2 separate regions of the Homo sapiens genome follow, and region 1 is linked to region 2. Evidence: fine-mapped expression QTL. A gene starts in region 2. The other region holds a variant in brackets. All regions are shown on one strand. Distances are between the middles of the regions. Region 1 has its middle 35 kb from the start of LINC00242. Region 2 holds the start of PHF10 (PHD finger protein 10).

What was found. PIP is the estimated chance that this variant, and not a neighbour inherited with it, causes the effect.
Region 1: its variant is fine-mapped to the expression of PHF10 in whole blood (INTERVAL, PIP 0.96).

The regions. Positions count from the first base shown.
Region 1 is chr6:169,832,537-169,835,440 of GRCh38, reverse strand. No RefSeq gene overlaps it. Among named protein-coding and RNA genes, the nearest start is that of LINC00242, 35 kb to the right of the region's middle. The variant C/T (reference allele first, on the strand shown) is at 1,410.
Region 2 is chr6:169,722,932-169,725,835 of GRCh38, reverse strand. It overlaps PHF10 (PHD finger protein 10), which reads left to right and starts at 1,336. Exons shown (of 12, transcript NM_018288.4): 1 at 1,336-1,991. The coding sequence starts at 1,905. It also overlaps a transcript of DYNLT2 not described here. RefSeq lists an enhancer at 671-1,213 and silencers at 1,145-1,444, 1,515-1,754, 1,855-2,234.

The sequences.
Region 1 (2,904 bases), 110 kb before region 2:
TGGAGTTTTATTTTTGGAAGATTTTTAACTAAAAAATCAATTTCTTTGATACAGAACTATTTAGTTTATCTATTTCTTGTTAAGTGTGTTTTAATAGTGTGTGGCTTTTAAGGAACTTGGCCGTTTCATTTAACTTCTCAAATTTAGGTGCGTAGAGTTGTTCATAGTGGTCCATTACTGTCATTTTTATGTCGGTTGTGTCTATAATGCTATCATCTCTTTCAGTCTTAATATTGATCATTTGTTTTCTCTCTTTTCTCTCTGTCATTTACCAGTTTGTTGATATTTTTAAGAACTGTTTTGAATTCATTGATTTTCTTTCTTGTTTTTCTGTTTCCAATTTTCATACAGTTCAAATTTTTTTCTAATTTCTTTGAAATGTAAAATTGACCTATGCATTATCTAAGTGTGTCATTTAGCCTTCAAGTAGCTGGAAGTTTCCCCAATATCTTTTTGTTATTAATTTCTAGCTTAGCTTTATTGTGGTCAAAAGCATGCTTTGCATGATTTCAGATCTTATAAAATTGTTAGAGCTTTCAATGACCCATGGCATGATTTACCCTAGTGAACATTTCACGTGCCCCTGAGAACGTGTGTGCTGCTATTGCTCGGCAGCGTGTTCTGCACATGTCAAGTGAGTCCAGGTGGTTGGTGATGCTGTTCAGTTCTTTATCCTCCTTCTAGAAGATTTTCTGTTCTATTCTAACCATGACTGATAAAGGAGTGTTGAAGACTCCAACTACCAACTACAGTTATTAATCCATCATTTCTCCTCTCGGTCCCACCAGTTTATGTTTCGTATATTTTGAAGTTCTTCTGTCACGTGCATACTCAGGACGGCAACGTCTGCTTGTGGACCTGACCTCTCACCATCATGCAGTGCCCTTCCTCATCAACCACAATCTTCCTGGCTCTGATGTCTATCTCGTCTCTGCAGCCACCGAAGCTTTTTTATTATCATTAATGTTTATGTGGTGCATCTTTTCATCCCCCTACATCATTATATTTAAAGTAGGCTTCCTGGAGACAGCACAGTTTGGTCTTTTTAAAATATCCAATCTGATCATCTGGTTTTTGATTGATATGCTTAAGCTACTTATATTTAATTTAGTTACTGGGGTGTTTGGATTTAAGTATGTCATTTCATGATTTGTTTTCTGATTGTGTCTTACATTTTTTTAATCAATTTCCCCTTTTATATCTCCATTTGGATTCTTAGAATAGTTTTAATATTCCATGTTAAGGGTCTATTGGGGTCTGGTTTATATCTCTTTGCACAGCTGTGTGGGTGTGTGGTTCACGTACGAATTACAATTTACACAATTAACTTTTCACAGTCTACTGAGGATAACATTTTGCTGTTTCATGTGGACTACAGAAGCCACTTCCACAGCGGCCTCCATGCCCTC[C/T]GCTGGCCCCGTGCCCTCCCCTCTGTGTGGACCTCTGCGTTAGCTGAAAAGACCAGTGTTATGGATGCTGCCTTCATTCCTCATACACACCGAGAAAAAGGCCTATTTTATTCACCCAGACATTTATCATTTCTGTCACTTTCCCTTCATTCCTGAAGTTCCAGATTATCCTTACTGTTTCTCTCTGCTTGAAGTTTCTGTGGCGCTTCTTTTATCACAGGTAAATTGGAAATAAATTCTTAGTTTGTCTTCATCTGAGACTGTCTGTATTTCACATTCATTGCTGAAAGACACTTTTGCTGGATATAAGGTTCAAGGTGCGTAGCTCTTTTCCTCCATGCTCTGGGCCTGCTGTGCCACTTTGAGGACTCCAGGGCTCCTCCTGAAGGTGAATCCACGCTCCTTTGGATTTTTGCTCCCTGTGCGTCACGTGCTGATTCCTCTGGCTGACTTTAAGATTTCTTCGTGTTTGGTTTTCAGCTGTTTTATTATGCTGTGTCTGGGTGAGGGACTTCTTTAAGTTTATCATCTTTGGGTGGCAGAATAAATTTCATAAGCAGCCTACTCATACTCTCTCAGATGAGTCATCACAATGTCTAATTGGCTAAAGGAAACTCTAGAGTCTTGAAGGAGTTACTATTTTCCCCCAAAATTAACTTAGAAGATCGAGAGTAATAAACCATTCTTACACATATATAGGTGCACTAGAAATAAAAAGAAAAAAAGAAATGTTTCTCTCTATTATTTTCGAGTAGGAAAAAAATGACAGCCTACATTTTAAGTCTGGGCCTTACATATTATTTCTGTGTACGGTGAAAGTGGAGGAAAAGGCCTTCTGTGTGATAATTACGGACAAGGTGCTTCTGGGGGGCTCACAGAACACAACAGTTAACAAGCGGGTGTCTTCACCAATCGTCATTACAGCTAATGTAGGCTGAGCAGTTCTTACACGGCAGGTGCTACACCCACCTCTTTACATGCACCCTCTCGTGTTATCCTTGGAACAACCTTGTGACCTTAAACATTATTAACCCCAATTTGCAGGTGAAATTGAGGCATAAGTAACTTTCCCAAGAACATACAACCAACAGATCCAAGAAGTCCATGTTCTTAAATCCCGACATGAACTCCTGTCACATCCTGAGAAGGCACTCATGCTGAGCAAGTTAAAGGAATCATCTCACCCTACCCACACATTAGCCAGGGGGGCCATTTCCTGTTTCATTTCCTATCAGTGTGTGTCTGTTCTTATTTGGAAAAGTAAAGGAGGCTTGGCTTAAACCAATCTATCCTTGAAGCCACATTTTAGAAGGGTAAATATTGCTTCTCATGTCACATGTTTGATCATGCTTCTAAACTAGCTGGGCAACCAGAGGCGCTGCCTCGGATCTGTGCTGCTCAAGGACACAGCTCTCCCTGTGGCTCTGGGTTCTGTCCCAATTCTCTCCCTCTGCTGCTCTTAAAAAGCCCTTATCCATTAGAGACACAGTAGTTA
Region 2 (2,904 bases):
TTGTGCAAGGTTGTGGTTTTGGCAGTCTTTTGTGCTAATTCTTTATATCAGGCAATTATTAGTGAGAACTTTCCCATCACGGCTTTCCCTGACTCCATTCTCTGACAGCTTTCACAATCTAGAGACAGAATCCCGGAGGGAGAGGAGTACCAAATAGCTTAAGAGTTTTTTTTTGTTTTTGTTTTTTTTCTTAAAAAAAAAACCGCTAAACTCTACCCTGATCAGTGAAAAGAATTTAGCTGAAAGATGCAGTTTCTTCTTGGCAGATTCAGACAAGAAGTGCGGCGGAAGCTTACACCTGCACGTGGTGGGACAGAGGCAAGAACGGATGGTCTGGCTGAGGCTGAGAGAACCAAGCTGGATTAGGATCGGCTTGAGGGCCCGGCGTCGTCAGTGGTGACCTCTCTGACCTGAGGCAAGTGAGTCAGGCTGGACTGAGCGTGTTAACGTCGGTGTTTGTCAATGTGACGCGCTAGAATAATCCCTTTATCTTTCCCAACTTTTGTTTGTTGAGTGTAGGCAACTATAATGAATGGAAAGGAAACCGGATTGTACTTTAAATCCGAGAACATTCTCTACTCTCCAGAACAAGTCATCTGCAGGCGCAGGCAGTGGAATCCGTGAGGCCAGCTGTACGGCGGGCCGCCCCGGACCCAGGCTTGGCTCCTCACTTTCCGCTGTTTTTAGTGCGGTCCTACAAGTGCCCTGGTGCAGCCCGAGATCAGTAATAAATGCAGCTGAAATACACCGGCTCCCACGTTCTCGCGGGGGTACCTGCCAGGCCGGCGTCCACGCTCCTCCCCGGCTCCCGGCCGACCGCGTTCTCGGCGGAGGCATCAACCACGCGGGCACGCAAAGCCACGAGGGCCGAATCTCAGCGACTTCTTCCCGCTGTGCCTCCCGCACGCTCCGGGGCGGGCGCCGACAGCCCCCGGGTGCAGCTGCGGATGCTCGGGGAAGCGTGGCCTGGGCAGGTGGCTCCGCTGCTCTCTCGGAGCGCCACCAGCGAGAGGGGCGACCCGAGAACAAAGGCGGGAGAGGAGCGGCGACCGCGAGCGCGTAGAGGCGGAGGCCGCGCAGTCTCCGCGCGACTGCTCCGGGCAGGGCGACCCCCGGCAGAGAGGGGGCGGGGCGGGGACCCCCGGGAGGGGCGGGGAGGGGCGCGGCGGGGGCGCGGAGAGAGGGAGGGAACGAGGGTGACGCGCGGAGGGGCCGGGCCGGGGGCCGCGGGGAGGGGGCGGCTGCGAGCGCGCCAAGTGGCGACGTGCCGGGCCGGGGCGGGCCGGAGGGCGGGCGGGAGGTGGGGCGCGCCGGGGGCTGGGGGGAGCCGCGGCCGAGTACAACGCCGGGCCGTGGGGAGCCAGGCGGCGGCGGGGCTGAGGCGGCCGCGGGGCTGAGGGGAGCGGCGGGGCTGAGGCGAGCGGCGGGGCTGAGGCGAGCGGCGGGGCTGAGGCGGCCGCGGGGCTGAGGCGAGCGAGCGGCGGGGCTGAGGCGAGCGAGTGGCGGGGCTGAAGGGAGTCGCGGCGGCGCTGAGGCCAGCGGCGGAGCTGTGGGGGGCAACGGTGCTGAGGCGGTGGCCGCGGCCGGGCGGGTTGGGCTGACGTGAGAAGCGCCGCCGCCGCTGGGCCTCCTCCATTCCGGCCCGCAGCCCCGCGCCCTCCCAGCCTTTGGCGCCCTCCCGCGCGGGCGGCGCGCTGGCGACGGCCATGGCGGTGGCGGCGGCGCTGGCGGGCCGCGGGGCGCGCGGCGGCAGGGGCCGGCCCCCGGGCGGGCGGGCGGAGGGGGCGGGGCCGGGGCGGCGGGGGGCCCGCGCGGCGGCGGCGGCGGCGGCGGCGGCAGCGGCGGCGGCGGCCGGGACAAGGCGGAGGCGACGGCGGCGGCGGCGGCGCGGGGCGCTCGGGCTGATGGCGGCGGCGGCCGGGCCCGGGGCTGCGCTGTCCCCGCGGCCGTGCGACAGCGACCCAGCCACCCCCGGAGCGCAGTCCCCGAAGGTGAGGAAGCGGCCGGTGCGACCCGACCCTGACCCCGTCCCGGGCCTGGGTGCCGGGGCGTGGGCCCAGTCCCACCGGCGGCCGCCCAGCGTCTCGGGGGCGTGGGCCCAGGCCGGGCGCCGCGCCTGAGACCGGGGGTGGTCGGCGAGGCGGGGCCCCGAGGTGAGCCCGCGGCCTCTAGCGAGCAACAAGTGCGGGCGGGCGGGGGACGCGGCGCGGCTTCCCCGAAGTTGGCAGCCGGCCCTGCTTGACAAGCTTGTCCCCAAAACGCCTCCTCCTAGGCCAGCCGTGGGACGGAACGCGCCCGGGGCCGAGAGAGTTGGCCTCGGAGGGGCCTGCAGAAGCGCGCGTTCGCTCAGCGTTCATTCCGCGCATAGTTTGCCGAAGTGTTTGAACGCTTACTGCAAAAACCGAGTGGCGAACGATATGGAAAATCAACACACTCAGTGAACTTACTGTAATAACTAAGTTAATACGCAAGCGTCCGGATGTTTTCAGCGGAAGTCTGTTAAAACTTTTTACTGCTTGAGGAGGTGAAAAGAAATTGGTGCTTGTGGAGAAAATGGAGATGAGCAGTAGTGTCACGCATCAAAACGTTTTGGTTCTAAAGTTAGGCTAGCAGTTTGTGACAGAAAGTTGGAAGGGAGGAATGATGTTTTAAAAGCCTGGAAGCTTGAAATTGGATTGAAATTAGAAGGCGGTGGGAACTGGAATGCTGCAGAGCCAGCCAGCCTTCGTGCGGTGCGCGGTGTGCCGTGTGCGCGTTGGCAGGGGAAGCCGTCCTGTAGCAGCCTAGCCGGGCTGCGCCTGCTTGGGAGCTTTTCCCGTTGCGCACGTCCACCGTGCTGTGAGACTCATTTTGAAGGTTCCTCAAAGGCTGTCGTCAATGGAAGTAACTAGATTGTAAGACTCT